Homo sapiens: one gene and its partners. The protein of the gene in region 6 purifies or fractionates together with the protein of the main gene of each other region. This does not show direct contact. Each region holds a gene or a part of one and is shown on either strand. Other genes may lie near its edges. The genes, in order: KIDINS220, DNAJC16, ALG13, PLEKHB2, EMC10, CGRRF1 and TMEM201.

What was found.
Region 1: the proteins of CGRRF1 (region 6) and KIDINS220 purify together in Homo sapiens (affinity purification with mass spectrometry; 3 studies listed by BioGRID and IntAct, with this or other methods). This does not show direct contact.
Region 2: the proteins of CGRRF1 (region 6) and DNAJC16 purify together in Homo sapiens (affinity purification with mass spectrometry, with the first as the bait; one large-scale study listed by BioGRID). This does not show direct contact.
Region 3: the proteins of CGRRF1 (region 6) and ALG13 purify together in Homo sapiens (affinity purification with mass spectrometry, with the first as the bait; one large-scale study listed by BioGRID). This does not show direct contact.
Region 4: the proteins of CGRRF1 (region 6) and PLEKHB2 purify together in Homo sapiens (affinity purification with mass spectrometry; 3 studies listed by BioGRID and IntAct, with this or other methods). This does not show direct contact.
Region 5: the proteins of CGRRF1 (region 6) and EMC10 purify together in Homo sapiens (affinity purification with mass spectrometry, with the first as the bait; one large-scale study listed by BioGRID). This does not show direct contact.
Region 7: the proteins of CGRRF1 (region 6) and TMEM201 purify together in Homo sapiens (affinity purification with mass spectrometry; 2 studies listed by BioGRID and IntAct, with this or other methods). This does not show direct contact.

The regions. Positions count from the first base shown.
Region 1 is NC_000002.12:8,827,105-8,831,588, forward strand, and holds part of KIDINS220 (kinase D-interacting substrate of 220 kDa), read right to left. Parts: intron 26-4,484; 5' UTR 1-25. UniProt on the Homo sapiens protein: Promotes a prolonged MAP-kinase signaling by neurotrophins through activation of a Rap1-dependent mechanism. Provides a docking site for the CRKL-C3G complex, resulting in Rap1-dependent sustained ERK activation.
Region 2 is NC_000001.11:15,543,395-15,547,878, reverse strand, and holds part of DNAJC16 (dnaJ homolog subfamily C member 16 isoform 1 precursor), read right to left. Parts: intron 3,481-4,484; coding exon 3,296-3,480; intron 1,113-3,295; coding exon 1,008-1,112; intron 1-1,007. UniProt on the Homo sapiens protein: Plays an important role in regulating the size of autophagosomes during the formation process.
Region 3 is NC_000023.11:111,729,047-111,733,530, forward strand, and holds part of ALG13 (UDP-N-acetylglucosamine transferase subunit ALG13), read left to right. Parts: intron 1-1,348; coding exon 1,349-1,381; intron 1,382-1,478; coding exon 1,479-1,534; intron 1,535-4,484. UniProt on the Homo sapiens protein: Catalytic subunit of the UDP-N-acetylglucosamine transferase complex that operates in the biosynthetic pathway of dolichol-linked oligosaccharides, the glycan precursors employed in protein asparagine (N)-glycosylation.
Region 4 is NC_000002.12:131,128,717-131,133,200, reverse strand, and holds part of PLEKHB2 (pleckstrin homology domain-containing family B member 2), read right to left. Parts: intron 2,481-4,484; coding exon 2,441-2,480; intron 300-2,440; coding exon 210-299; coding exon of another isoform or gene 186-209; intron 1-185. UniProt on the Homo sapiens protein: Involved in retrograde transport of recycling endosomes.
Region 5 is NC_000019.10:50,479,184-50,483,667, reverse strand, and holds part of EMC10 (ER membrane protein complex subunit 10 isoform 2 precursor), read right to left. Parts: intron 3,558-4,484; coding exon 3,453-3,557; intron 3,088-3,452; coding exon 2,906-3,087; intron 2,785-2,905; coding exon 2,691-2,784; intron 1,808-2,690; coding exon of another isoform or gene 1,721-1,807; intron 1,520-1,720; coding exon 1,409-1,519; 3' UTR 1-1,408. UniProt on the Homo sapiens protein: Part of the endoplasmic reticulum membrane protein complex (EMC) that enables the energy-independent insertion into endoplasmic reticulum membranes of newly synthesized membrane proteins.
Region 6 is NC_000014.9:54,536,371-54,540,298, forward strand, and holds the end of CGRRF1 (cell growth regulator with RING finger domain protein 1), read left to right. Parts: intron 1-1,351; coding exon 1,352-1,459; intron 1,460-1,692; coding exon 1,693-2,013; 3' UTR 2,014-2,922; downstream 2,923-3,928. UniProt on the Homo sapiens protein: Able to inhibit growth in several cell lines.
Region 7 is NC_000001.11:9,604,950-9,609,433, reverse strand, and holds part of TMEM201 (transmembrane protein 201), read right to left. Parts: intron 1,878-4,484; coding exon 1,645-1,877; intron 1-1,644. UniProt on the Homo sapiens protein: Critical regulator of angiogenesis and endothelial cell (EC) migration. Promotes the migration of endothelial cells, which is essential for angiogenesis.

The DNA of each region.
Region 1 (4,484 bases), on a different chromosome or scaffold from region 6:
GCTGCAATTAACTTTATTTGAATACCTGTTAAATTAGACAAAATACACATAATTTATAATTAGAAAAAATTAAGTTACTATTAAATACAATATCCTTCTTAACATTAACCTCATGCAAGGACACCTCCAGTGGCAGAAGTGAAGATACGACTTCCCACGGCTTCCATAGCTCAGGTGTCAAAAAGCTGCCGTGATGTCTCTTAGGTTCACACTCACCTCCATCTTAACTTATCCAAACACCAAACTCCACATCCATCCCCAAACCCTCCTCATCACCACTCCAAAATGCTCCCCTGCTCCTCCTGCTGTCACCATGCCAGTAAACGGCAGCTCCAGGTCCATTCTTCCAAGGCCAAAAGCATTGAAATTGTTCATGACTTACCTCTTCCTCTTACACCCTACACTCAATCTATTAGCAAATGCTTTTGGCTCTACCTGTAAAATACATTTCACATCTGACTACTACTCACCACTTCATCACTGCCACCCTGGACGAGCCACCGTGACTCACCTGCGTCACTATCATCGCTTCCTAACTGGCCTCCCTGCCTCCACTTTACCTGGAAGAGTGGATTTTAAATGGTCTCACTGCAAATAAATAATTAAGTATGGGAGGTGATGAATATGTTAATTAGCCTGATTTGATCATTCCACAATGGATACATGTATCAAAACATCACATTGTACCCCTAAATATATATAATTTGTCAATTAAAATTACATTACTTTTTTTAAAACTTTAACATATATCAGAATCACCTGAAGAGCTTTTAAAGCAGATTCCTGGGCCCCACCGTCAGAGATTCTGACTCAGCAGGTCTGAGTGGGGCCCCTGACTCTGCATCTTTATCCAGCTCCCTGTGACACTGACAACACTGAGGAAGAACCACAATGTGAGCAGTACTAAGTCAGAGCATGGCCTCTTTTATTCAAAGCCCTCTAAGGGCTTCTCGGGGTGCTCAAAGTAAAATCAAATGTTTTTACCTTGGCCAAGATAACTCTTCAGTGGCAAGCCTCTCACCTGTGTGACACCTGTGACTGTAGCTCCTACCACCCCCTCTCACCCTCCTGGCTGCATGGCCACACTGAGCACCGTCCCACCTCGCCAGGCCTCTGTGCTACTTTTCTGTCTGCCTAAAATTCTCTTCCACAGGACATGCACACGGCTTACCCCCTGACCCCGTCAGGTCACCTGGTTACAAAGTCTCACCGGATGTGGGATGTCAGGGTACCGACCCCACACAGGCTTCACTGTCACCCTGCACTCTCAACCCTTTGTCCTGCTTTCACTGCTCTCCACACCACTTGCCACCATCCAAAAAATGACATATTGTTCACTTATTGTCTGTCTACCATAACTATAAGTTCTAAAAGAGTAGAAATTTTATTATATTCAACTGGACATCCAAATGCAAATAAATAAACCTCAATCCATACTTTGTACCACATACAGGTGCTAACTCAAAATTGACCTAAATATAATGTCTGAAAGTACAAAACTTCTAGAAGAAAATATAGATGACTTCAGTGACCTTAGATTAAGAAAGATTTGATATAACACTAAAAGCATGGTGCATAAAAAAAGAAAACTGATAAACCAGAGTTCGTCAAAATTGAAAACTTTGGCTGTTATGAAAATGAAATTATTTGGGACTGGTGAATCCTCTTTGCCTTCCTTTTCCTCCACCCTTGAACAGGACTGTCTATAACTGATATCCCATGCCCATTCCCTAACTCTAAGTTGGAGCAGATAACTTGATTCTTGCGTTTCCCAGGTGGAAAGGAATCATGCCTCTGGATGGACTACACCCAGACCCTCTCATACCTGATTTAGATGATGAGATTTAAATGAGACTGTGGACTTTGGGTTGATGCTGAAATGAACTGAGACTTTTGGGGAGGCCTTGCGATGGAGTGAATATGTTTTGACACAGGAAGGAAATCTATCTCTGGGGGCCAGAGGGCAGAAACTATAGCACTATATGATTCTACTTATATAGCATTCTGGAAAAGGAAAACTGCAGGGGCAGAAAACAGATCGGGGCTGCCAGGGTCTAAGGCAGGGGAATGAGATGGCTACAAAAGAGTACAAGAGAATTTGGCGAGTTAATGGCTGTTCTATATCTTGACTGTTGTGGCAGTTACACAATCATTCGTTTGTCAAAATTCAGAACTGTCCATTAAAAAGGGTGAATGTTATTACATGTAAAGTATAAATCAGTATACCTTACTTTTAGGGAGTATATATTCAGAACAACTTGAATTTATACTCTTGGGGTGAAAAACTATTATTTTAAAAAATGATGTTATTTGATCCCATAGTTGCACTTCTAGGAATTATTCTAAAAACATGAGAAACATGAACAAAATTTTAAGATTTTAAGTAAAACAATTTTATCCATAAGAACAAAAATCTTAGAAATGGATATTATATAAATTATAAAAATTCACAAAGTAGGATAATATACAGTCATCAAAATGTCTCAAAAAATGTGTTACAGAAAAATGCTCATGATAGAAGAAGTGAGGTAAAAGATTAAGAGCTATATATACAGCATCTCAGCTATTTTAAATGTATACATTTTTAAATACTGGAAATAAAAAAAGAACAAATGGTGATGGGCATTAGTGTAATTTTTATTTTCTTTAAAACCTTTATCTCCTACATGTTCTGGAATGTGATGCTTCTATCATTAGAAAGCAGTGAGGGTTTGTATTAGCAGTCATCACCAACACCTACCTTCATTTATTCCCACTCCTTCTAGGATCAAGCCTAAGGCCTCAGTGAGGTTTGCAGGATCTGGCTCTCCCTCTATACCAGCCCCAGCTCACCCCACAGCCCAGCCAAGCAGAAGAACTCAAATTCACCACACTCCCCCAGTGCTGCTCCACACTCCCGCCTATGCTCAATGTGCTCCTTCCATGTAGAACACCATCCTCATCTCTACTCTACCAAGGCACCCATCTCCCTCTGAGTCACACAGCTACCATTTTTCATCCAGTTTACCCCCTAAAGTGTGAGATCACCCAACCCCACACTCAGTGCCTTAGTTTAGACCTTCACCATCTATACTAATCAAGACCCCTAAGGTTGCAAGAGACTAATTTAAACTAGCTTAAGCAAAACAGAAAAATGTATTTGAAGGATAATGGTTTATTTCCCATAACCACACTACAGGAAGAGTGGGTGCCACTGGACCTCAAATGCCAGGAGGATTCTCTTTCTCTACTGGCTTAATCTACTTTCCTTCTAGACCAACTACTTCTACACAAAGGGAAATATGGCTTCCCACAGCCATCCAGCCTCAAATCAGATCGTTTATTTATTTTTTGAGACAGGGTCTCACTCTGTCACTCAGACTGGAGTGCAGTAGCACGATCATGGCTCACTGCAGCCTTGACCTCTAGGGCTCAAGCGATCCTCCCACCTCAGCCTCCTGAGTAGTTGGGACTACAGGTGCACACCACCATGCCCAGCTAATTTTTCTATTTTTTGTAGAAATGAAGTTTCACCATGTTGCCCAGGCTGGTCTCAAACTCCTGGGCTCAAGTGATGCGCCTGCCTCTGCCTCCCAAAGTGTTGGGATTACAGGTGTGAGCCACCGCACCTGGCCTAAATCAGATAGTCTCTAACACCAGAGAAAGCAGGCTATTCTTTGTTCCCAGATCCAACAGTCCCAGAAAAGGGCTCTGACTGCCCAGGCTGGATCTGTTGCACACCCAGAACCAAGCAACTAGAGACACAAAGTTGGGAGGGGGTTACAAGGTCACACCATATTGGCACTGTTTCCAGAAAAGAGTAAACAGTTGTGATCTAGGCATCAATCCTAAAAACTTCTACTACACCATCTCTCACCCAGATCAATGTGACAGGCTAGCAACTTTTGCCTCCTCTCTCCAGGCCTGCCACCTGCAATCCATTTGCCACACTGAAGCAAGAGTGACCTACAATACATCTCTCCTAAAACCAAGGTTGGGAGGACAGATGACAGCTTTACTACTTACAAGTTATTCAAGGAACTTACGCCTTCTAAGGCTTTTAAAGCCATTGTAAAGATGCAAATACACAATTCCTACGGAAAGCTTTGCTCTCCACTGAGCAGAGTGAAAACTCAGTAAGTTCAATTCTTGATTATGATGAGGGCATGCAGATTCTTCACAATCTGGCCCCATCTTACCATTCCAGCCTTATCTTTCTCCCCTCCTCAGCCCCATCCCTCCCACCCTCTACATAGTCACATCTACACCTCCAGCTCCAGCCAGACTGATCTACTTGCAGCTCCTTCACTGCCCCACACTTTGTTCTTTCCAGACCTTTGCACTTAATGCCCCCTCTGCTTAGAAAGTCCATTCTCCACGTATATATGCCTGAACAGCTCCTACCCATCCTTAAGAACATGGCTCTAACAGATCTTCTGGAAGCCTTCATTGACTGGCTGCTTACCCCAAGCTGGGCCAGGCCCTGGGCTCCTCCACACCTGTGT
Region 2 (4,484 bases), on a different chromosome or scaffold from region 6:
GAGTGTAGTGGGGGAATCATTCACAGGGCAGGTCTGAAGTCAGTGGGAATCGCGCTCACCATGCTGTAGTGAGAACTTGGGTGGGTTATATGACTGCTCTAAGCCTCAGTATCTTGCTCTATGCAAACAGGGATAGTGGCCAGGCGTGGTGGCTCATGCCTTTAATCCCAGCACTTTGGGAGGCCGAGGTGGGCGGATCACTTGAGGTCAGGAGTGCAAGACCAGCCTGGCCAACATGGTGAAACCCCATCTCCACTAAAACACAAAAATTAGCCGAGCGTGGTGGTGTGTGCCTGCAGTCCCAGCTACTCTGGAGGCAGAGGTGAAAGAATTGCTTGAACCCGGTAGGCGGAGGTTGCAGTGAGTCTAGATCACACCACTGCACTCCAGCATGGGCAACAGAGTGAGACTTGGTCTCCGAAAAAAAAAAAAAAGCCCATCACAGTGGCTCATGCCTGTAATCCCAGCAATTTGGGAGGCTGAGGCAGGTGGGTCACAAGGTCAGGAGTTCGAGAGCAGCCTGGCCAACATGGTGAAACCCTGTCTCTACTAAAAATAGAAACGTTAGCTGGGCATGGTAGCACGCACATGTAGTCCCAGCTACTTGGGAGGCTGAGGCAGAAGAATCGCTTGAACCTGGGAGATGGAGGCTGCAGTGAGCCGAGGAGATCGCGCCACTGCACTCCAGCCTGGGCGACAGAGCGAGACTCTGTCTCAAAAAAAAAAAAAAAAGAAACAGGGATAGTATCTCCATCACTGGGTTCTTCTGAGGATTACATGATATGTGCATAGAAAGCACTAACACAGTAACTGGCATTAATCAGTACTCAATGTATGATGGTTATGTAAAATTTCTGGTCTTCAAACATTTCTCATGGATGAAACTGTTTCTTACAAAAAAGACAAATAGGCTATAAGTTCCAACTCAGAGATTACTTTCTGCTAAAAAAAAAAAAAAAAAAAGAAAAGAAAAGAAAAAGAAACCATTATCCTAGCATAGAAAGTACCTTGTATAACAGTGGCACAATGGGCGTTTGGTCAAACAGAAGGACATGAGGCTTATTCTCTTGCTGCCAGCCAGAGAGGAATCTGACGTAATTTTTATTTGTAACCTTAAATTGAAAATAGAATGTTAGTCTCAATATTTAATTCTTAACAATTGTATTATACTCCAGTCAGGAGAAAATAAACAAATCAAGTAAGTGTAAAAGATTGCAAAAAATAAAAATGCAGATAACTAATCTTTTTGTCTTCATTTGGCTAAAGCTATTAAAAGAATGGTGATATTGATTTCATATTTTCATTGAACTCTTACAGACTGAAATCATAATCCTGTCTGAAACAATTACTGACCATATTATAAAAACTGAGCTTCCAGAGTTGGTTCTTGCTTAATTACAGAGTATACTTCTTAATATACTAGCCAGCAGAAAATAACACACAACTGCCCCTTTCAATATCTATCTATCTACCTATCTATCTATCTATCATCTATCTATCATGCCTCAGTCTCCCATCTATCTATCACACCTCAGTCTCCCAGCTTGCCCCTCACCCTTTTTTCTGAGACAGGGTCTTGCTTTGTTGCCCAGGCTAGAGTGCAGTGGCATGATCATGGCTCATTGCACCCTCAACCTCCCAAACCTCCCAGGATCAAGTGATCCTCCCACCTCAGCCTCCTGAATAGCTGGAGCTACAGGTACATGGCACCATGCCTGGCTAATGTTTGCATTTTTTGTAGAGATTGGGTCTCAGTATGTTGCCCAGGCTGGTCTTGAACTTATGGACTCAAGCGATGCTCACACCTCAGCCTCCTAAAGTGCTGGGATTACAGGTATGAGCCACCACTCCAGGCCAGCTTGCTCTTTTTAAACGGCGTAAATAAAAATAAGCTGGTCCACCCCCTCTATACATTATATAATTTCATTTATTGTTATCTGAATTGTTACTTTCCTCCACTGATATCTTAAAATATTCCTGAGAGAAATTAAAAACATGAATAAATTATCTAGCTAGAAATTTTTCTTAGTCGTTAAAAAAAGTTTATCTTTCCATACTGCATCTAGAATGATTTATATAAAACTCAAATTTGATCATTTCACTCTTCTGCTCAAACCCCTACAACGGCTCCATGTGGGCCAAGGCCCAAGTTCCTTAAAGGAGCGTGAAGGTGCTCTGAGGCCCTCACAGGGAGATTCCTAATAACCTCTCCATCCCCCTCCTCTGCTGCTCACCAGTGAAAACTTCTTACAAAGCGGGCTATTTCATGTCTCCAGATTTCTGCCTGCCTGCAACCCAACCTGGTCCAAGGGTCACTTCTGCCAGGAAGCCTTTCCCAACTCATTACGATGGGCTCCAACATACTGGAAATAACCACCCGCTTGGGAGCTGCTTGAAACGGCTATGTTAATCTATGCCGGGCACAGAAGAGATATTTTATGTAAATGTTTGAGGATCTATCAGGACAATCTATCACCATTTTAGAAGCCTCCAATATTCTCTGACAAACTTTTAAGTTAATTCCAACAAATATTTCTCCTATAGATAATGATCCCAGTAGGACAGTCTAGGAATAGCACATGTAGAAATACGATGAAAATTTTTTATGTTCACTTTCCCTGTATTCTTAAGAGAATGAATTATTTAAAGCAAAATGAGAGTCCGTTCCTAGTTACTTTGATCCCTAAATTAAGATATTGAAAAAAACATATTAGGTGCTTAAATATGGAAATAATAGACCAATGTGAACTTTATCTGGCTTCTCTATTTCAACCTTTTCTTTGTGAAATTCATTCATATTATTGTCACTGTAAGTTTCTGAAGTTTCAAAAATAATATTTGATTTCATGGAATCTGGCATTTTCCATAGATATGATCGTTAAACATATAACCAAATATAATTAAATTTGCATAAAGACAAATATCTTCACATGAACAAATTTATGAGCCAGAAAGAAATCCCTAATTCTTTCTAACATGTGATTTAATTTTTTTGTTTAGAAAATAGGCACTGTCATTTTAGGCTCAGATTCCTATGACAGTGTAAGTTCTGCAAGATGGGTATTAATAGGAATTAATTCTTTCAGTCTCTGTACTTCATCTGTTTCAATTATTAGTCTCCTACAGACTTCACTTAAACGATTTAGTTTGAGTAATTAATTAATTAATAAGTGTCATGCCTTCCTCACAATGAAACTCAGGTTTGAGAGGACTACAGAAAATGTTCTGGGCAATTAACAGTCCTAGGTACCTCTTAAACTACTTCTCAGCCATAGTTTCCTTGACAGATACTTACTTTCTCCACCAAGTTCCCTGGAAGAAGACTTTCTACAAATTGTCGCAGATTTTCACGGACAACTGCATTGTGGAAGAAGGAGATTTTCCCGTTAATGATTCCTAGGATAGAGGGCGTGCTGTGTGCCCCTAGGTGATGGGCCAGGCGTCTCTCATACCCAGCATGGACCACGCCAATTCCTACACCTGAAAAGAATGGAAGATCCAAATGAAGCCTTTTTATGTCTCCATGGCAGCTGGAAAAAGTGCTAAGTAATTTTTTGGTGTGAAATTGAAATCCCGACCTCATAGGAGATGTCTTTCCTAATAGACTGTCTAGCATTCTTTCACTGCTGGAATTCTAGATTGGTTCAGTTTTTCTGTAGAGCAATCTGGCAATATGTAAGAAGAGTTACAAATGTGTGTGTGTGTGTGTGTGTGTGTGTGTGTGTGTATGCATATACATAAAACAAAATGGGGTCATCTCATACTTATTTCACTTAATACTTGAACAACTTTTCTTGTTCTTTCATCCAACCATATATTTGGAGGGCCAGTTACTCTGCTAACACTGGAGACACATTCAATATTAAAGGCCGATAAATGTACATTTTCTTTTGGATGTCTACTAGACTTCTCAAGCTTAACATTTCCAAAAACGAACCCCTAATCTCCTCCCACAGACCTGTCCTACCCACGTCTTTGCCATTTCAGTTGATGACAGCTCCATCCTTCCAGTTACTCAGGGCAAAAACTGTAAGCGTCATCTTTGGCTTCTCTTATCTGTTGCACCCCACATCCAATCTGTCGGCAAGTCTTGTTGGTTTTCTCTTTAGAAAATGTCTGGAATTCAACTGTTTTTCATCACTTTCATTATATGCCCTGCTCTGAGTCATCATTATCTCTCCTGCCTATGTTGCTGCAATAATATCCTAAATGCTCTCCCCCTATTTCTCCCTGTCTCCTGACAGTCTGTTCTTAACATAGCAGCCAGGCTGCTCCTCCTAAAACATAAAAATGGATCACATCACTCCTCTGCCCAAACCCTGCAAAGACCCATTTCAGCTGGAATAAAATGCACAATCCTCACAGAGGCCAACAAGACCCTTTGTGTTTGGCCCCTGGTTCCCCATGCCCTCTTCTTCCACTCCTCCAACAGCCTGCGCCAGTCCCCAGCGTCCTTGCTGTGCTATGAAGACAGTGGATGCTCC
Region 3 (4,484 bases), on a different chromosome or scaffold from region 6:
TTTTTATCACCACAATAGAGAAATCCTGTGCCCATTAGGAGCCATTCCCCATTTGCCCCAACCCCCAGCCCTTGGCAACCATCAGTCTGTTTTCTGTCTTTATGGATTTGCCTCTGCTGGACATTTTTTATAATTGGAATCGTATACACACACATAGCCTTAACAGTTTTTATGTTGACTCCTACCATGGAATGTGTTTATTTTTACCTTGTTACTTTTAAAAGATACTGTATATCCCTATTGAAACAATTGTGGAGCATTGAGTGGCTTAAGGAGGTGTCAGGCATTCCTAATGACTTGACTTATGAATAAGTTCCTTATTTTCTTGTACTCTTTTTTTCTACTAGTGTAGAAAAAAAATAGATATTTTTAGGAATTTAATGAGTAAAAAAATCTAGTGCAAGAATGATCTGTGAAAACTTTGTACGTGTGTGCATGCGTGTGCTTAAGGACATTTACTGTCTGCTCTCTTATTTAGATGACCCTTTTGTCTTTTAGCTCTATGGGTAGTGTGGCATATTTGAAATAACCAAATCTTTGCTCCCACCTTAAATCTGGAGGAGTTTCATGCGTGTGTGTTTGATAAGTGGTGTGTTTAAGAATCAAATTTAGTTTAGAACTGCGGGTTTATATTTGGTGGAAAACTGTCCGATTGAGTATTGACTTTCTCTGCATTTCAGTGGTACAGAAATCTTAAAAGTACTTCAGTCTACTGAGCCATCCTTTGAGGACACACTCATTTTACATGTATTACTTACATGAAACAGATTGAAAAACAGATGAGGCATACATGTTCCCTTAATGTCCACCTAAGGAAACAGTGGATTATACTCATACTTTATAGACACCATTGAGTATTTAGTATGTGTAAAGCACTATGCTAAGTTACTTTCACTTCCATTAACCATCCTCAAAAGGCCTATGAGCTAGGTACTGTTACTCCATTTTACAGTGAAGAATTGAGGCACAGAGATTAAATAACTTGCCTAAAGTCATGTAGTTAATCAGAATTCAAATCTAGGCAGTCCTCACTCCAGAGCCTATGTGCTTAATCACCACACTGTAGCCTCACTGGAAAAATTGGACACAACTGAGTTTTCACTTCTGCCTGACCTCTAAGAGCTAAGTGGATTTTCAGAGGAGAAATTTGTACAGCTTACAGCTAGTCTGTGGCTTCAATATCTGTTGACTAGTGTGAAAGCTCATATCACTTTTCAGGATGTATGCATTTTAGTTTTGAACATATAACCATAAAACTGGTGGAAAAAGCAAGTGCTGGCCATTTGGCTCTGCTGAGCTAAAAAGACCTATATAAACACATTTCTTCTGTCTTGTCTTTTTTCCCCAGGGCGATATCATGAAGAATATCTTTATCGTGCAGGTCAGTAAGATCTAGAAGTGATCTGGCATTCATCATTGTTTATAGAATTTCAAGCTATAAAATAATGCTCATTTTTTACTTTGGCTATATTCTCTAGAGCCAGACTATGAAACTTCAGGTGTTTATAGCACAACTGCATCTACAGCAAACTTGGTAGGTATTTAATAATAGCAAAGAGTTATAGCTCCTACTATGTACTAGGGCACTGTTAAGAGCTATACATATAAATGTATTTAAATCAGAACAACCCTGTGAGGCTTAGTATCATTCTCATTTTGAAGATGAAATTGAGACAGAAATTAACTCGTGTTCTGGAACTAATATATTTAGAGATATTCTAACATAGGCAGTAATGATCTTTTAGAAGGTTTTATTATGATTTTTTTATTAGAATGGATGATACATCTCACTCAATATAACAAAAGTTTGCTTCTCCTTTATGCTACATGTCTAGTAGAGGTCTGTAGAAGGGCTTGCTCAGGTACTTAGGCTGATGGAAATTCATCCACAATTGCCAAGGCAGGAAATAAAATTCGGTAAATGGTGCACTGGCTCTTAGAGTTTCCACTAGAGGTGATACATGTCACTTTCTTTTCCATTTCACTGGCCAGAGCAGGTCCCACTGAAGAGTCTTAACTTTTCTGTGCTGGAAGGCAAAAAGAAACATGTTAACAGCGCTAAGAACTATATCATTCAACTTGCCCTCCCTCTCATAGGCAGAATACTTGTTTCTGTCTCAAAGGAGGCATCCTAAAATGTCCCATTCAGTGTAATCAAACTCAAAGCCTAGGATTTCTGGGCTATGTGTAGTACTTGTTATATTGGGTCCAGATGTAGCTTCTTGTGATCTTGAGACTTAAAACCAAAAATACAGAGGTTTTATTTTTTCCCCCTCCCTCCCCAGTTTACAGTGCTGAAGCAGGGACTGAAATTTCTATTCATAAAGGGAGAAAAAAACAGTTATTGGCCTGTAGCAATTCTGAGACCTTCATGGGCAGACGTTGTAAGGGCCCCCAACATACTCATGGGACTCTTCCCTGGAGGAACTCTCGTTCATTTTCTGGGGCTCTTGGTTACTCCCAAGGCCCATCCTTCCTTGGCAGTGTTTGGAGTAGGCATTGGAGAATAATCCTTCCTTGGCAACCGAGCAGCTTTCTAAGCTTGCTACTTACAGAAGATTGGAGGCCCAAGGGTGGTTTTATCTCAGTTGAATGGTTTTAGTTCTGGCTCGTGATTTCTTTGGCTGTAAGATTAATTTATTCTGCTTCTGTTTGATTTCTTTTGGTTTCATGTACCAATAGCCATACTACAGTTCTTTTCTATAGATATACTACTAAGATTTGCTATAATTCTTTGTGGTTTTATCCTTATATTTCTGTCTATTTGATTGCAAGTGGCTTGAGTTTATCAGGCACTGATGGAAGAGCCATGCATTTTGGACATTTTTCTACAAGCCATTTTGTTGAAGTGCAAGGATTTACTAGGTGTTACATCCTTAGTTGAACTCTAGCTTTGAGACATCTTAATACACTCGGGTTTTAACCAAAGAGTTCATTCTTGCTGCGAGGTCGAGTTTTCACTGTTTGTCGTTGTTCAAACCATTCATCAATATTACCTTTTATAGTTTAGGGTTGAAACAGTTGTTCCTTCAACCCTGTGAGTCCCTGTATGCAAGGAATCTATTCCCTTTCATTCCTGCCTGCAAACTACTAATTCTCTCCTACATACACCTGTCTTAAAATAACTTGCTTTAGACAATGCCAACAGTTATCAAAGCACAATACTAACATCATGTCTTCTAAATTGCTTACCCTAAGAGCTACATGTTCATAATCTCCTTCTCAATTAGGATTTTGTTATAGCCGTACCCTACTTCTAGTTACCAATTTCTGTTTTAGTCAAGCTAGGTTATGCTGCAGTTAACAACCCCCCAAAATCTCAGTGGCTTAACTCAGGAAAAGTTGTTCTTGCTAATGTTATATAGTTCAATGCGAGTTGGCAGCAGGCTGCCAGACTATGACTGTTCTTCATAGTCACCCAGGGACCCAGGCTGATGGACACATGCCATCATGATCATCACAGCAGGGCAAAAGATACAGAAATTGAACACTGACATTTCTGGTCATATTTTATTGACCAAGTAACATGGTCATTCTTGACTTTGGATGGAGCTGGGAAGGGCAATCCTACCATCTATTCAGGAAATCTGGAATATTTATGAAGAACTTGAATAACTACCTTATATTCTCTAATTATGACTAAACTGTGGCAGCTTCATGTACTAAATTTTTGTTTTTACTGTTTAGACAATATACCTTAGGAAGGAGAAGAAAACTCTGATACGTAATTCTCTTTCTGTTCTTTCTCCTTCCCTTACTTTGCTCCTTCCAGAGAAAGTTTTTTCCCCCATTTCCTGCCACCATTACTATTCTCATATCATGTGCTTTTGATATCACCTCTTGAAGTAGCCAAGTAAGAATCTTACCACAAGGGATGACAAGAATACTTTTTTTCTGTTCCTTCAATTTCACTTGTCACATGTTCCTTTTTGTTCTGAATTTAAACAACCTCAATAGCTTTCAATCTCTTCATATGTTCCAAGCCCTCTGCCCCCATCACCAAATCCATAGCAAATTTCTATTGTTGCTAAAATAAAGGATAAATGTCTTCAGAATTATCAGCATACATTAAAAAAAAACTCTTTGTCTTTAATTTTTAATTTCAATAGGTTTTTTGGAGAACAGGTGGTGGTTGGTTACAATGAATAAGTTCTTTAGTGATGACTTCTGAGATTTCAGTGCACCCATCACTTGAGCAGTGTACCACTGTAAGCAATGTATAGTCTTTTATCCCTCACCCCCTTCCCACCATTTCCCCCGAGTCCCCAAAGTCCATTGTATCATTCTTATGCCTTTGCTTCCTTAGCTTAGCTTCCACTTATGAGTGAGAACATATAGTGTTTGGTTTTCCATTCCTGAGTTACTTCACTTAGAATAACGGTCTTTAATTCCATCTGAGTTGCTTCAGATGCCATTATTTTGTTTCTTTGTATGGCTGAGTAGTATTCCATGGTATATATGCACCACATTTTCTTTATCCACTT
Region 4 (4,484 bases), on a different chromosome or scaffold from region 6:
GTTACACATTAATACAGCACATTATAATGTGCTGAACTATATAAAATAGTTGCTTCATTTCATGAAAACAAACGTTGATAAGAAATCATCTGTTTTAAGAAGAAAAGGTTTAGAGTACATTTCTAATTTCATTTAAAAAAACAAAACAAAGCAGGACAGCAGCAGAGACCCCAAACTTCCCTCACCTGGAGGCTCAGGGTTCTCCCTACCTCAGGGGCCGGTGCAGCATAGGCCGTGTATGGTGGAGGTGAGGAAACCACGGATGTCTCATCGGTCATGACTGCAGAGCCCACATACGCCTGCGGGAGACAGGAGAGGGTGAGGACAGGACAGCTTCCCAGCAGCTGTGTGCTCGATGCTGTGCATTGTCCCTTTTATTTAGCAAATTAAAAATTTAAAAAAACAAAAAGATACATAGCTCTCTGCAAAACAGGAAAAACTCCCCCAGTCCAGTGGGGGCCCCCACCCCTATTCTGGTATCCTCTAAATGCAAGAGCAAAGTGGTCCTCACTCGGCCCCTAACAGGACTACAGCTCTCACAGCCAGGAAGGCACTCAGAGGCCCCACTGTTACCCAATGCCTTTTAAAAGATGTTACATCAGGCCAGGTGCAATGGCTCACACCTATAATCCCAACACTTTGGGGAGGCTGGGTGAGAGGATCACTAGAGCCCAGGAGTTCCAAGGCCAGCCTAGGCAACAGAGGGAGAGCTCATCTCTACAAAAAACAAGAAATTAACTGGGCATGGTGCTTATGGCCCCAGCTACTCAGAAGGCTAAGTCTCAAGGATCACTCGAGCCCAGGAGCTCGAGACTGCAGTGAGCCAAGATCAAGTCACTGCACTCCAGCCCAGGCAACAAGGCGAGACTGTCTCCAAAAAAATAAAGATGTTACAGCACTCTCAACAGTCCTTTATTCACAAATAAAAACTCTACAATCTAAAATGTATCAAGAGATATGTCCTATACATAAGTCTGTTTTTTACCTTAAAAAACAAAATTCTTCATTAAATTACTCCCCAGTATAATTTAAAGAAAAACATGTTAGCTCTTTAAAAAAAAAGAAAAAGTGGCCAGGCGCAATGGCTCATGCCTTTAATCACAGCATTTTGGGAGGCCAAGGCAGGCAGATCACTAGGTCAGGAGTTGAGACCAGCCTGACCAACATGATGAAACCCCATCTCTACTAAAAATACAAAAATTAGCTGGGCGTGGTGGCACGTGCCTGTAATCCCAGCTATTCAGGATTCTGAGGCAGGAGAACTGCTTGAACCCAGGAGGCAGAGGTTGCAGTGAGCCGAGATCGCTCCACTGCACTCTGGCCTGGGCGACAGAGTGAGACTGTCTCAAAAAAAAAAAATCCACACAAAGAATCATTTGGGGAGCTTGCCCTTAACTGTATGGATTGTTAATGCTAATTTTACCCAAAAAAAAAAAAAAAAAGGGGGATTTTCATGAAGAAAAGGTAACTGCGGCTGTAGAGTAAGCTTAGAATGAAGTTGTTGTGTGCTAACAAAGGAAGAGAACACTGACGCTATTAGGATATTAAGCCTTTTACTTTCTTCTCCCACATGCACACATTCTTCTGTAAGCTTGATCCACCTTCTTCTTTTCTTACAGATTAATAAAGGAGAGAAAAATCCCATCTAAAGAATGAAAACTCTGACCAGAGTAACACACTCCCTTGATCACTGACAGATAAAGACAGCATTACGAGGCTCTACAAATGAGGTTCACTGTCTCAGTGACCTCCTAAGGCCAGAAACAGGACGAGAGACAAGTACAAGTCACAAAAATGTTTGTTTCACAGGCTGAGCTCCCATGCGTGAAAAGGATCCTGCAGTTCTTTCTAAGCCTTTACTGCAAACCACAGCACAATTCAAAGTGTTGCAGAACTTTGAGAAATACAAGCATTTCTAGAAAGCAACACTGGAACAAGCATGCCTGTAAGAGCAGGGTGCCTCCTGCCAAACATTTGACAAACCCAGCTTGCTCACTGTTGGCAAAAGGCGCCCTGCCCAGCACTACCTGCCCATTCGTGGCCAGATGGTCAAGAAACCCGTTTTCCCCATTCTCCAATTGTTACACAAGACCATGTGAAAACATTACTGGTGGCCGGGTGTGGTGGCTCATGCCTGTAATCCCAGCACTTTGGGAGGCGAAAGTGGGAGGATCACTTGAGCCCAGAAGTTGGATACCAGCATGGGTAATATAGTGAGACTTCGTCTCTACAAAAAAATTTTTTCAAATAAGCTGGGCGTGGTAGCATGGGCCTATAGTCCCAGCTACTGGGAAGGGGAGGCTGAGGTGGGAGGACTACTTGAGCCCGAGAGGTAGAGGCTGCAGTGAGGTGAGACAGCACCACTGCACTCAAGCCTGAGTGAGAGTGACACCTTGTCAAAAAAAAAAAAAATTATTGGTGATTGCCATTAGCAACTTACTGTGTTTGTCCTAGAATCTTGGAGTGTAAATTTCCAGGCCCTGGAGAAAAGAAAAAGGGTACTTTATTTAAGGCAATCCAACATTGCAATGATTCTGAAACCTGGGCTGGCATCAGAATTCCTGAAAAGATCTGTTTAAAAAACAAGTCTTCAGGCTTTGCCCCAAACCACTTGAGACATGCACTAGGAATATATATTTTTAAAAATTACATACATAATAGATATGTAATATTTAAAACATAATCTATACTATACTTTTTACTTTACTTTTTAATAAATGTGAAATGTACTGCCACTTGCTTTGTCAGTTCATGGCATACACACAGATCTACTTCCTTTTTACCAGCTATATAATATTCCACGATATGAGTAAAAAATTTAGATTAGCAATTTTTCAACATTAAAAAGAATGCTGGGGACCGGATGTAGTGCCTCATACCTGTAATCCCAGCACTATGGGAGGCCAAGGCAGGGGGATCACTTGAGCCCAGGAGTTCAAGACCAGCCTGGGCAACATAGTGAAATCCTAGCTCTACAAAAAATATAAACATTAGCCGGGCATGGTGGCGCATGCCTGCAGTCCAAGCTACTTGGGAGGCTGAGGTGGGAGAATAGCTTGCGCCTGGGAGGTCGAGGCTGTAGTGAGCCAAGATCACACCACTGCACTCTAGCCTGGATGAGAGAGAGGGGCTCTATCTCAAGAAAAAAAAAAGAAGAAAAGAATGCTATTAACATCCCTATTACCCTTACACTCTTATGTAAACATCTCCACAGGGCAAATTCCAAAGACTGAAAATACCACATCAAAGGATAAAAACATAATTTATTTCAGCAGGTATTGCCAAAATGCCCTGCAAAACGATTCTAACAATCTCTATACCTACCAACTTTACACTATATTGTCAAAAAAAACTAGATATCTGAACCTTAAGTATCACAAGAGCTTTCTTAATTCATAGGCAAAAAGCAGTCTCTCACGCCTGTAATCCCAGCACTTCGGGAGGTCAAGGTAGGTGATCACCTGAGGTCAGGAGTTCGAGACCAGCCTGGCCAACATGGTAAAACCAAGCTTCTACTAAAAACACAAAATTAGCTGGGCGTGGTGGCACATGCCTGTAATTTCAGCTACTCCAGAGGCTGAGGCAGGAGAAGTGCTTGAACCCGGGAGGCAGAGGTTGCAATGAGCGGAGATTATACCATTGCACTCTAGCCTGGGCAACAAGAGCGAAACTCCATCTCAAAAAACAAAATAGTGTTCTCTTGTGCACTCCCTCACTCCTTTACCCCTTACTTTTCTTACTGACCCTATCCCTCTTATCTTCATCAATTCCTTTTATGTTTTATTCTCATTTTACTATCTCCCTGAGTTGAAAGATTCATTCACTTATTTTCAAGTGTTCTGGCTTTCTTTTTTTTTTTTTTTTTTTTTTTTTTTTGAGATGGAGTCTCACTCTGTTGTCCAGGCTGGAGTACAGTGGTGTGATCTTGGCTCACCGCAACCTCCACCTCCCAGGTTCACGCCATTCTCCTGCCTCAGCCTCCCAAGTAGCTGGGATTACAGGTGCCTGCCACCACGCCTGGCTAATTTTTGTATTTTTAGTAGAGACGAGGTTTCACCATGTTGGCCAGGCTGGTCTCGAACTCCTGACCTCAGGTGATCCATCCGCCTTGACCTCCCAAAGTGCTGGGATTACAAGCTTGAGCCACCACACCCAGCCCAAGTGTTCTAGCTTTCTAAGGAATGCAGTTAAGTTGCAAAATTCCCCAACTGATTTTGTATGTGGCATACCATTGTCATTCACTTTGCTAAAGGGTATCATACTGGATTATTCATATATCTTATATAGATTTTGTTGTCATATCAGGTGGAAGAGTCTAGTAGGGACTTTGGTCTGCCAATTCAGTTCGATTATTTCAGAACATTTTTCTTGCCTTAGATTTGTAATTCTCTCTTTTGGGTTGTACACTTTATGGACATCAATAATCTTTCTGAACTTTTTTTAGTCTAACATATCTCTGATCTTTTCATCTTTTTCCTGTCACT
Region 5 (4,484 bases), on a different chromosome or scaffold from region 6:
ATCGCTGAGCCTGAGAGGTGGAGGTCGCAGTGAGTCAAGGTACCGCCACTGCACTCCAGCTTGGGTAACAGAGCAAGACCCTGACTCAAAAACAAAAAGAAGTGATGGGAGGGAAGGCAACCTCCCACGGTGCACCACCTCCTGGTCTTGACAGTCGACTCACAAACCATCACTTGTTTATAAACGCGTTTCCGATCTGCCATCGTAATTCCATTTTAGTCATGCATCCCGAGATCATTCAAACCACACCCAAGAGAGACTGGACGACAGCACTCACTAGGGTGCTATTTATAACCATACAATGCAGGAGGCTAGCTGCGTGTCGATCTGGGGGACAGTTTAATAAACTGCCACACAACACAGCTGAGCTCCACACAGCCACATGAGGATGGGGACAGCCATTCCTTGGGTTTCTGAATAACGTATCAAGTGAGCAGTGAATTTCAATCAAGCTTGTACATCAGGACCGTCTTGCCAAAACAACAGTTGCTTTTGGCTGCTGGAAGCTGTAGCTTTTCAAAACGTTCACACATTTCAATGTATCGTCGATGTTTTTAAATAGACTTACAGGGAGGGTGGCACACAGCAAAGGCCCGCAGGCCCTCGTAGCACCGCAGTCCAGGTAGGATGCTGGGCGGCGGGGGGTGGTGGAGGGGGTTCTATTTACAGTGTCTGGGCTTTGACTCCACTAACTGTTGGTTTTGTTTTCTTTCTTAAACCTTTTCCTTCAAGTCTGGAAGCCTGTGGAGGGCCTGTCACCTTAAAGGCAAGGATTCCTTGTTTGCACCAGGCAGACAAATGTCAAACCACGACCCCAGGGGCTGCACTAGGCGTCGGGCCCAGAAGCCCCCGGCCATCCAGCCCCGACTCTTTCATGCCTCTGCCCCTGATGAGGGGACCCAGGGTACCCTCAAGGGGACACAGAAGGGAGGCTGCATCCTAGTCCAGTGTCAAAGTGAGGGGGGCGCTGCAGGAGCCTGGACAGGACCACCTAGCCCAGCCAGGGACAGGAGGGTGAGACCACCTGGAACAAAGGCACAGAGGCTGGAGAGAAGGCGGCATGTTCCCAGACTGCATGGGCTCGGGGTAGGGGGATGCGAGGTCAGAACTGGCATAGTGGCCAGGATCTCGGGCTCTACTCCATGGGCAGGGGGGAAGCCCCTGGGGCTGCATGGGGCCATGGGGGAGGCGGGCGCAGGAGACACCGGCTGCTGTGCCAAAGGCCCCAGTCCAGCTGCTCCTCTGCCAGCAGAAGGCAGAGGACAAGGGGCTGGCCCAGGTGGCCTCGTGGGACGGGGGGAAAGGAGGGACCAGCAAACCCTTCTTGGGATGGCTGAGGACACAGGGGACTCCAGCAGAAAGGGAGGCCCCTGGGTGTGCAAGACGGGACGCTGACCAGCCTGGGCCCTCACCGGCCACTACCCCCACCACCACCCCCACCCCCACCCCCACCCTGGCCCCCGGTGTCTGGCGCTCCTGACATCATGAGGAACAGGACGACGGGAATGATGTACATCCACTGCAGCCGGACGGAAGGATGGACAGACAGACACAGAAAGAGAGAGAGAGGGGAAGGAGGTGAGTGTGGGCATCACCCACCCACGGTGGGGACCGGCATGAGGGGAGGTCGCGTAAGGGGAGGGCGCCCAGGTCCCCTACGTCACTACAGGTCAGGGAGGGCCAGTGGGGCGCAGGGAGGGGCAGGGGTCTCGGTCCTCACTCAGGCCTCCTGTGGCGGTGGCGCGGGCCCTGGCGCAGCAGGACGCAGGGCTGTGAGCAACACGGCCCCCCCCAGGATGATGTGCCACTGGGGAGGGAGGGAGCGCAGGTCAGGGCCAGTGGGCTGCCGTGGGGCCTGAGGGCCAGCAGGGAGTGGGAGGGCGCTCGAGTGGGCAGCAGGGCAGGGCCCAGCAGGCAAGGGCTCAGCCTCTGGGCCTCAGTTCCCTGCAGCACAACTGTTGGACTATCCAGGCGGAGCGGGTGAGGCCCTCAGGCAGGGCACTCAGCACAGCAGGGCTCAGCCATCCCAGCCTCAGCATCCTCCTAGCCTGCCTCGGGCCACACAGACCTCTTCGCTGGCCTTGGCCTGCCTGGGCTCCTGTGCCACAACCTAACACCAGTCTCCACACTCAATGGACCAGAGGCCTGGGTGGAAGCCACCTCCTCCGGCTGTCCCCAGCCTCCCCACCCCACGCCTCAGCCTCTAAGCCCCCGGGACTCAGACCTGCTGCTGGCAGCACAGGCCCCTCCCTCCTCAGCTCCAGGAGGCCTCCCAGGCACCCTGCTGCCCCCAATGCCCCTCCCTGGGCCACATCCCTCCCGGACCCACTCCTCTCTCCTTCCTGTACAACCCCCTGAAGAACCTGCTCGCCCCTCCTTTCCAAGCCTCCCTGGTTCCTTTGAAACCTCCACTGTTCCCTTCCTCTCCAGCCTCATGGCTCCAACCTAGCTCAGGCCGAGACCTCCCCCAGGACCCTGCGCCCTAGAGCTGGCCCGACCTCCCCTGACCACACTTCCATACCCTCTTCCTGCAAACAAGCCTCAGCCCAGGTACCAGGACACACAGGAGGCCCGGAGGACAAGGAGCAGGCCCGAGCACCATAGGGGAGTCTGGGTGGGAGCATGGAGGGCCTGGCCAGGCACCGGGACTGTCAGGAAGGGAATAGGGGAGGCGGGGGAGCCCCACTCACGTATTTGGCGAAGAAGGACTTCTGCTCCTGGGGGTTCTTGGCCTTCTGGGCCTGTTCCATCTCCAGGCGCTCAATGAAGGCCGCCGTCTCAGGGCTGGGGCAAGGGGAGAGGAGGAGAAGGGTGAGGCCCGGAGTCCAGGGACCTGGAGACCCTGAGGCCGCCAGGAAGGGCCGGGGCAGGTGGCAAGAGCGCCGCGAAGGCAGCAGAGGCTCACCCTGGGGCTGTGGTGGGCGGCTGCAGCTGCACCGAGGTGTTGAACAGCTCCAGGTCCACGTCCTCCACCTCATGGCCCCGGCAGCCCCCGGGGTGCGTCACCACCGACACGCCCACCACGTTGCCGGCCACATCCACGTGCAGGGTCAGCTGGTCCGACAGGTGCGACTCCACCAGGGAGCACTGTGGGGGGAGTGGGGTCAGTGGAGGTGGGGAGCCTGCTGCCTGGGCTCCACCCTAACCTCCCCCGGCCCCCACCACAGGACCCCCGGAGCATTTTTCAAAACCTTCCCATGGCTCCCTGTTACCCTCAGGCCCAAGTTCAACCGCCCCCCACCCGGGAGTCCTCACAATGCTATCCCCATGAAAGCACCCGCTACCTGGACCGACCCCTCCAGACCAGGAGGCCTCGGAAGGCAAGGCCAGGTCTGAGTCTCCCAGGCCTCTGCGGGCTCCAGAAACACAGGGGTTCGAATGGTGGAAGCAGGACCAGGGTAGGGGATGAGGAGGACGAGGGAGAAGGGGGCTCATCCCCGACACCAACTCACCGCAGGGACAAAGGAGGAGACATAGCCACCAGCTTCCAGGCCATCCAGGGCCCCGGGTCGCCTTGGGATCCGGACCCGGTACAGGCCATTCAGGGCTGCCACATCCTGGGGATGGGAGAAGAGGGTGCTGGTCAGAAGGATGGTGTCAGCCCTGGACAGGCTGTGATGCCCACCAGGCCTCCGCGAAGGCCCCTCTCCAGCCCCACCCACCTCACGGCCCACACTCCCCAGGCCAGCCAACCTGAGTCGACCCAGGACTCTTCCTGTTGGGGTGGCCCGGCTGGTGGGTGAGGCCAGGAGCAGCTGGGACCGCCCCACCTAGGGGAAAAGCCACCACAAGGAGGGCAAAGCCCAGCCCAGCGATGGAGTGGGTCCTGAGGACGCCTTCCCTGTGCCTGGATCCAGCTGCACCTGGCGTCCACCCTATGCCTGGACGTACCAGTTACATGCATAATAAATTCTGTTTGGGGACAGCTGTGACAAGAGAATCATGTGGGTACCATGCAGGAAGGGTGCTCAGGCAGACCTCACCGCGTGGCCACCAGAATCAAGCCTGCACTCCCCAGCCTCCCTCACAGCTACATCTGGCTGATGGGTGGAAGTGGGTTGTGCCAGCTTTTGCAAGCTTTCTCTAAATGCTGCTGCTCCTTCTGCCCCTCTTTCTCCCTCTCTATCCTGCTGCCTGGAGCCCTGGGGCCTCTCTGCATGACCCCTGCGGAGGATTGAGCTGGGCCCTTGAGGCTGCCACAACACAGGGCGACAGAAGTGAGCTCCTGTCCAACCATAGCTATTTTGAGGCTTTCTCCTCACAAACAAATCTCATCTAAGTGGTCATGAAACAGCTCAGCTGATCTGGAAAAGAAGAGGAGCCGACTGTGTGAACCTGCAGGGGAAGGGGGTCTGCCAGCAGAGGGAGCAGTGCAGGAAGAGGCCGTGATGCAGGACACCATGCCTGGCGGCGCTAAGACGAACTGCAATGCCGTTCCTCCAGGGGCAGTCATTGAGGACAGAGGCTGAGAGTGGCAGGTGGTG
Region 6 (3,928 bases):
GCAGTAACAAATAATCTTATGCTGAATAATTCATATATACATATCTTAATATTGTTGGAATTGTATGGTTGAAGTGTAAATGCATGTTGTTTTGTTAGATATTGCCATTGGAATTGTACCTTTTTGGAAAAAAACATTTCCACCAACAATATATGAGAGTGTATTTCCACAGAGTGTATTGACAAGCTTCTGGATTTTTGTTACTTTGATGAGTGAATAATGGTGCAGTATTAATTTTAATTAAACATCTTTTAATATGGTCAAGGCTCATGTTTATATCTTTTTATGAATTGTCCGTTCATGTCTTTTGCCCATTTTTCTATAGGATTTTGGCCATTTTTCTTCAGTTTTTAAAAGTTCTTCATAAATTAGGAATATTAACCTTTAATTTGTGACACACCTTGTGAATATTTATTCTAGTTTGTCATGTGTTTTGACTTTGTTTATGGTGCTTTTTATCATGTATATTTTTAATTCTTATATAGTCAAGTGTATTTCCTCTGGGTTTTGAGTTGTAGTTAATGTCTTTCCTTACACTGAGACTAAAATGGAATTTGTTGATTTTCTTCTAGTACTTGTACAGTTTTATTTTTTACATTTAGATCTCTTATGTTTCTGGAGTTGATTCTTATGTATGGTATGAGGAATGCATCTAATTATATATTTTTCCAATAGCTATCCAATTGTCCCAATACTGTTTATTAAAAAAACTCTTTGGTGATTTGACATCACACCTTTATTATATTTTTGTACATAATTACGTCTGTTTCTGGACTGTTTATCCTGTTTCATCCATCTGTCTATTCATGTGCCAGTACCATACTGTTTTAATTTTAAAGGCTTTGTAGTCTGTTTTATTATCTGATGGGGCTAGTCGCCCTCATAACTCTCTCTTTTCAGTATTTTTCTAGCTGTTCTTTTGTGTTCATTTTTCTATATGAGAATTTTAGAGTCAATGCATGTAGCTCTCTAAGCAAAAGTGTTTTCTCTGGTCCCTTTACATCCAAGTTTCTTAAAAGACTGTTTAATACTGATTTTAATTCCTCTCCATTTCCTTCTTTAGTCCTCTCAAAGATTCCTTTGTCCATTGTGATAGCATTAAATTTGTAAATTTGAGTACAATTAAAATAACTCTGCCAAAAATATGTCAGTAACTGATTCCTCTGCAGTGATTATGATTTAATCAGATTGACGTAAATTTTCTAATTTATCAGCCTTTTATTTTTGAGAAGCATTTTTCTTTTTTTTTGGCAGAAGACAGTGTCTAGAAGCAGTTGAAAAGCATTTTTCATATATTTGTGAAATAATATAAAGATTTTAAGTACTGACCAGTGTTCAATTTTTATTTTAGATTTCCATGGTGTCAGTGATTCATATTCCTGATAGGACTTATAAACTATCCTGCAGAATATTGTATCAATATTTACTCTTGGCTCAAGGTCAATTTCATGATCTTAAGGTAAGCCGTACTCTGTAGTCTTATCTCTGTCTCTTTTGTTTACAGAGTTTCAAAGAATGGCCATTTATGGAAAGGTGATTATATTTTTCAGTTAATAATTACAGAAGATAACTAACTGTTCTTTGCAATTGAATTTGCTAGCTCATAAATTTTAAGCCGCTTCTTATGACCCCCAATTTTAAAGAGTAATTGTTATTTATAATAATCTTTAAATTTATTTCTTTGATTTTCAGCAACTTTTCATGTCTGCAAATAATAATTTCACTCCCTCCAACAATTCCTCTTCAGAAGAAAAAAACACAGACAGAAGTTTGTTGGAAAAGGTGGGACTCTCTGAAAGTGAAGTTGAGCCATCGGAAGAGAACAGCAAGGACTGTGTTGTTTGCCAGAATGGGACTGTGAACTGGGTACTCTTACCATGCAGACACACATGCCTGTGTGATGGCTGTGTGAAGTATTTTCAGCAGTGCCCAATGTGCAGGCAGTTTGTTCAGGAATCTTTTGCACTTTGCAGTCAAAAAGAGCAAGATAAAGACAAACCGAAGACTCTTTGAAGACATCGTAACACTGAAAAGTACACTTTCTACTAAAGATGCAGAAATTGATGATCTTGGAATTCATCATAACATGGAATCTACAGTACTGACCATCAATGAAAATTATATTTTAACTTCATATTTGTATGGTACTTGGATGATAAAAATTAATTATTCCTTTCTGCTTAGTGAATGAATACTGGAATCCATCTGTGTTGATACATAAAAATTCATTCAACTCTTGAAAAGAATCTAAGAGTTTGGCCTTTTATTAGCTAGATTTCCTCTCATGTTAATTAGAAAAATCATTCTGAAAGGCAATCCATTGAAAATTTGAGGAGGTTAAATTCTTAAGATCACTAAATGTTTTACCTTTGATGTAATCGGAGTGCAATTAAGAAAAAACTTAATTCTACTTAAAGTAATTGTGTGTTCCCTAGTTTATACAAAGGAGTTGGAATGAGCTTCTTTAGATCTTTTCCTGAAATAACAGCTTTTATAAATATCCATCTGTTTGGTTTCTAATGTCCCTTATTATAGTTACGTAAATACAGGTCATAGTTTTAAATATAGGTTCTTAAATCATAAATACAAGATATAATTCTTGACTGTTCTCCGTGTATTATAAAATGATACTCATCTATAGGAGGCAGATATATAAAATTCGGATAATAAGATTTTTTGGATAATTAAATTTATTAAATTGATAGTCAAGTGTGATTAGATTAGCAGAATGTGATCTCCAGGGAAGATCTGTGAGACCTTTAATGCCTTACCTTAGATTTCTGCCTGCACAGCAAATCCATCCAGAACTGAGGTGGGAGGTGGAGGTTATAGAGCTAGAAAAATCACTAAAAGAAACAAATAACTATTTTTTTCTAGTGTATTTTTATTCCAAATAAACCCTGTATTCTTCTGAATAGTAAATTACTTTATTCATCCATTGTTCTGTCTGTAAGAATTTTGAAACTTGGTAGGCAGAAAGACCCCACCCTTTTCTCTTTCCAAGATAACTAAAAGAAAAAGGTAAATCAGAGCTTTCCATGTTTTCAGTGAGAATTATCATAACTCACCAAGAAAGCAGATCATGGCAAATAAACTGTGACCTTCAGGGAGATTTTTCAAGCCCCTTTTTGTCCTGTTTGTATTAAGAATAATGCCTTACCTTTGTATCTGCATTTTTATATAATTCCATTCCAACCAGGTATAGCACTCTGAAGAAGACATTATCTATTCTCCATTATATAAACCAAATCAAACTTTCATCTACATTCACTAGCTATGTAATAAATACCTTCTAGGAGCCAGATACTTGTTGAGAGTCTGGGCTACAAAGAATCAGGCAAGACTCCTGATGTCAGGTATTTGAGCATAAAAAGAGCATTGATGGCTAATTAGAACCCCCCGACTTGCCACTCCCCCGCCCCGCCCCGAAGTTCCTAAGACTCTGTTCCAACCCTGCCACTGGAAGCAGGGTAGTCCAAAGCTGCAGTCCCTGCTGCCCTTAAGCTGCAGTCCCTGCTGCCCTTAACTAGCAGTATAACAATCTTGAAAAATCTGTCATGTAAATTGGGGGAATATTCAGACTCCATCCTAGCTCTGCTGCCTCTCTATAGATCTCTTTGTACCTTAACTGTCCTAGACACTTAGTTGGTTTCTCATCAGAAGCAGACTCCACCAAGCCTGCATTCTTATTCCATGTTTCATAACTTCGTTTGTAGTAAAATATACATATATAAAACTTACCATTTTAACCATTTTTAAGTGTAAAATTAGTTGACATTAATTACATTCACATTGTTTTGCAACATTCACCAGTATCCATCTCCAGAATTTTTCATCATCCCAAACTGAAACCCCATGCCCATTAAACAATAACTACCCATTCTCCCTCCCGCCAGCCTCTGGCAACCACCATTCTATTTTCTGTCCC
Region 7 (4,484 bases), on a different chromosome or scaffold from region 6:
TCCACTAATTGCAGACCCCAACTGCCTGTTCTCTCGATCCCAGGGATCACCAACCACGCTGCCTTTTCCTAAATCAGGCGCACGCACCCCAAGGGCAGGGGCCCCAATTCCAAGTGGCTGGCTGAGAGCTGAATGTGGGACCCAGGGACTGCCTCATGTCCTGTTGCCACCTGTGGGCTCTGAAGGGTCTGTTGCAGCATGCAGATAACCCTCCCCTCACCAGGCCAGGGGATAGGCTGGATAAGGGTGGTCACAAGGACCCAGCATGCCAACCAGGGTCCTTCTAGAATCCATTCTATGGATGCTGGGAGAGGCCGTCTTCCTGCTGGGCATGGGCTGCAGGACACAGGGATGAGGTGTGTGGCAGAGAAGCGGACTGAGGACAGACAGGGAGACAGCAAGCTGGATTCTGGCCACAGCACCTGAGCCCGGTCCAGCGCGTCTCTGAATACATGAGCCAAAGCCCTGCAGGAACTCCTGCCCCCGACCCACCCTCTGGCGATGGAGACCGGGCTCCTCCCCCCGACCCACTCTGGTAATGGAGACTGGGGTCCCATCTGTCACCGGACACTCCAAGACAAGCTTGCGCCCCAAGACCTCTGCTGCTACCTCAGACAGGTCGCTACTGTGTCCCTGCCTTGAGCCTTAACAGGGAGATTGCCTGTTCTTCTCTGTGGGCAGGAGCCCCTGCCTTGGAGGCCTGAACTGGCCCTGGGATTGCCACGCTCCCCTCCCAAGGGGCTTGAAACAGAAGTCCCTGAGCTCTGCCACCTTGGTCAGTGCGCACAGAGTTTACTCGGAGTGCTCAGGCCCAGGGCAGGGCTGCTCCTGGCACCTCCCACCCCAAGTTCCATTCAAGTGCCACCAGGCTGGGGTGCCCTGAAAATAGGGGGGTATCTCTGCTTAGGGGAAAAGCAAAAGCATCCTAATATAAACCTTGGCGTGTGTACAAAATGGCCTGCCCTGTAACTGCACGAGAGGAGAGGGGCCTTGGCTGTTATCAGCATCTCCTCCCCTAGAATAACTAGAGTGGCCCCCTTTGCTGAGGGGCATGTTGCAATTTTAGAGGAAAAGATTAGGGCACAGCACGGTGCACACATTTACCCAAGGTCATGTCACCAGAGCTGGGACTAAGGGGCCGTGCTGGGGCTCCCAGATGATATGGCAATTCTGGGCACTTTATTTTTATTTTTGTTGAGACAGGGTCTTGCTCTGTTGCCCATGGTGGAATGCAGTGGCGTGATCATAGCTCACTGCAGCTTCCAACTCCTGGGTTCAACCGATCCTCCCACCTCAGCCTAAATAGCTGGGACTATAGGTGTACGCCACCATGCCCAGTTAATTAAAACAACTTTTTTTGTAGAGACAGCGTCTCCCTATGTTGCCCAGGCTGGTCTTGAACTCCTAGCCTCAAGCCATCCTCCCACCTTGGCCTCCTAAAGTGCTGGGATTAAAGGCATGAGCCACCTATTCCTAGCTAGCCCCATTTCTTTGGGGGGAACTGAGGCTCAAAGCTCTGTGCTGCCTGTCTCTGCAGCAGGAACACTAACCACTCCCGGCCCTCCCTACACTATGTACCCATCCACAGTTCTGTCCCAGCTGCCCCTAGCCCTGACTGTCTGCCAATGCCTGGGCACCCCTTACCTGCTCGAGTCAGAGAGGGTATGGTTCCCAGAGAGAGGGCCCGGCTGAGGCGGCCAGGCAATGAGGAGGGTGAGGTCCGTCGAGGAGACCGGAAGAGCTGCTGGTTGGCGAGGGGCAGGAAGCTGGGCGGGCTGGGGATGAACAGAGACGCTGGAGAGCCTCCGACACTCGGGTGAGGGATGGCCAAGCTGGGGCTGGTGGGGAAAAGGCCGGCAGAGTCTCCTGGGAAGAACCTGCAAGGGCCCGTCAGGCACGGGACAAGAAGAGGGTCAGCGGGAGGTCCTGGAGGCAGCCTTGCAGTGGGTCCCACCCCTCTCCCACAGTGCAAGGTGGGGGCCTCAGCTGGGGTCCCAGAGGAGGCGTGCGTTAGTTAAAGCAGAAAAGCAATCCGACCACATTCACGCCATTAGGAGCGGGTGGCTGGGAGGTGCCAGCAAGACCCGGCCCTCCCCACATGCCCCCTCCTACCCCCTCGGCTCACAGCAAACTATCTCCACTACGAGTCTCGGTATTAAAGTGACACTGTCGCCTTTGCCAACCTCATGCCAACCCTTTCGCCTTGAAGCAAAAATGCCCAGCCCCGTGCCAGGCACTCAATGAAGGTTAATGGACTTGGACTCCTTGCCACTTCTTGTTCTGTGCCGAGCCTTCCCACAGAGCGGCCGGGCTCAGGGACATCCTGGCTCATCTCCCAGATGGGCCTGGATCATAGGAAGTCAGGCCCCAGCACGGCTCTGGGCACCCTCTGTTCCCAGGTGTGATTCCTGGAAGTCCTCCCACAGCTCTGCCCTTAGAAGGCTGCCTCCTGCTCTCTGGCCTTGCACTCTGGAAACTCCTCTGAAGTTCCTGGTAGAGCAGAACTGGGGGGCAGCCAGGCCTTGGAACCCCCTGGAAGAGGCTCTCACAGGACAACGCCAAAACCGAACTTAGAAGAGACCCATCCACGACCGCAAGGCTGCCCGAAAGACGGAAGGTGACAGTGTCTCTTTAACTCGAGATGGTACAAATCACACAACAGGACCTGATGGCCCCACGCCAGAACGTCAACCATGCTTCTGATTAAGGCACCCAATTACAGAGGGAAGAGAGGGACAGAGGCAGTTAATACATTAGTCCACCGTCTGGACGGAGCTCCGGGGGTCCAGCCTTACCTCGGTGCCAAGGGACAAATGAGCCCAGTGGACAACGTGCTGGTGAGCGGGCAGGCTGGCCCACGCCCTGCAGGAGCCGGGGGCTGCTTAAGGGACCTGCGCCCAGCATGACTGCATGCTCGGGGATCGCTAGCCAAGCCGCGCGCCACCAACCTCCCTGCTACTTTCCCTCTAAAAAAGTTTTATAAGGAAAGTGTGGGGCCAGCTCTTGACTTCCCGGAGAATCATGTAACCTTTCTAATGCCTTCCAAGGTGCCAGGAGACCACCTGGACTTCAGAACCAAAGGCGAGGCCATGTTTGGCGAATGTGGGCATCAAGGCAGGAGCTGAGCTGGGGACCCTGGGGAAGGCCCCGGTCAGCCGGACTGGACACATCCTTGTTCCGCCTGCTGACCTGTGATTCCCAGGCCCAGCGCCCGCTGCTTGCCCCCAAGACTCCAGGGAAGGCTCCACCTCTACACAGAAGATGAGGTTTTGTGTCGTCATGTTAGAATTCTGATTCCATTTGGCGGGACAGCGCAGCGACTTCAGGGAATGACCCTGAGGGCACCTTTAGGCAGGGGCAGTGAAGGTGTTGCTGGGACCTTGGGGCATGACCCTCCATGGGAGGGAGTTTGTGGGGCAGGGCTCTGCGCTAGGCTTCCTGTGCCCACCCTGCCCGGCAGCACAGACATAGCCAAGAGTCAGCCAAGGGTGACCAGGTCCCCCAGTGACCTGAGAGTACCGTTGGGGGATGTGTGAAAGGAGGGTCCTAGTGGGCTGTGGGTATGAGGTGGTCAGCTGGGCCACGCAGCTCCTGGCCCCAAAGGGTGGGCTCTAGCAGGAGTGGCTGGGTCTTGCCAGTGCATCCCCACTCCTCCCAGCTCCTGCTCACACCACCCGGGGCTGCCTCAGTGCTTAAAGGCTGAATCTCCTGGCCACCTGGCACAGGGGCTGTTGTTCCCAGTTTGGTGCCACTGAAGATGGTGCTGTGGGGAGTTCCTTCGCAGTTTGACTCCCTCACTGTGATATGTGGGAACATCACTCAACCAGCAAGACCTCGTAAATCGCTCACAGGGCTGGGCATGAGGGGCTGGGCTCTGTACAGGCGCCCCAGCGAGCCTCCGCCAGCTAAAGGAGCCCAATCTGTTGGACCCTGGAGAACTCCAAAGGTGCTAACATTTCCTTTGGCGAGAGACCCCCCCCGACTGCCCTGTGCCCTCAAACCACGTCTCAGAGAGGGACTAAGAGACCAGGATCAGGCCTGGATGCTGGCTCTGGGGAGTGTCAGAGAGGGACTAAGAGGCCAGGATCAGGCCTGGATGCTGGCTCTGGGGAGTGTCAGAGAGGGACTAAGTGACCAGGATCAGGCCTGGATGCTGGCTCTGGGGAGTGCCGGAGCGGATACGCTCATCTGACACCAAGGGGAGATGTCTGGTCTTCTCCGACCCAATCCCAGCCCACATCAGGAGTGGAAGGAGAGAGACCACGTTTTAAGCAACAGTTTATTGAGACGGAAAAAATATGATCCAGCAAAGGCGAGGAGGCGAGCCGGGCCCCGAGCCAGCTGGTGTCATTGTCACTGGCTCCCAAACCTGACTCCTGTGGACGTGTCTGTACCCCAAACACAGCTGCCCACCCCAGCCCTGGCACAGAGCCCTTCTGAAAGAAAGAAAAAAGAAGAAAGACGCGGCACCTGACGCCAGCGGG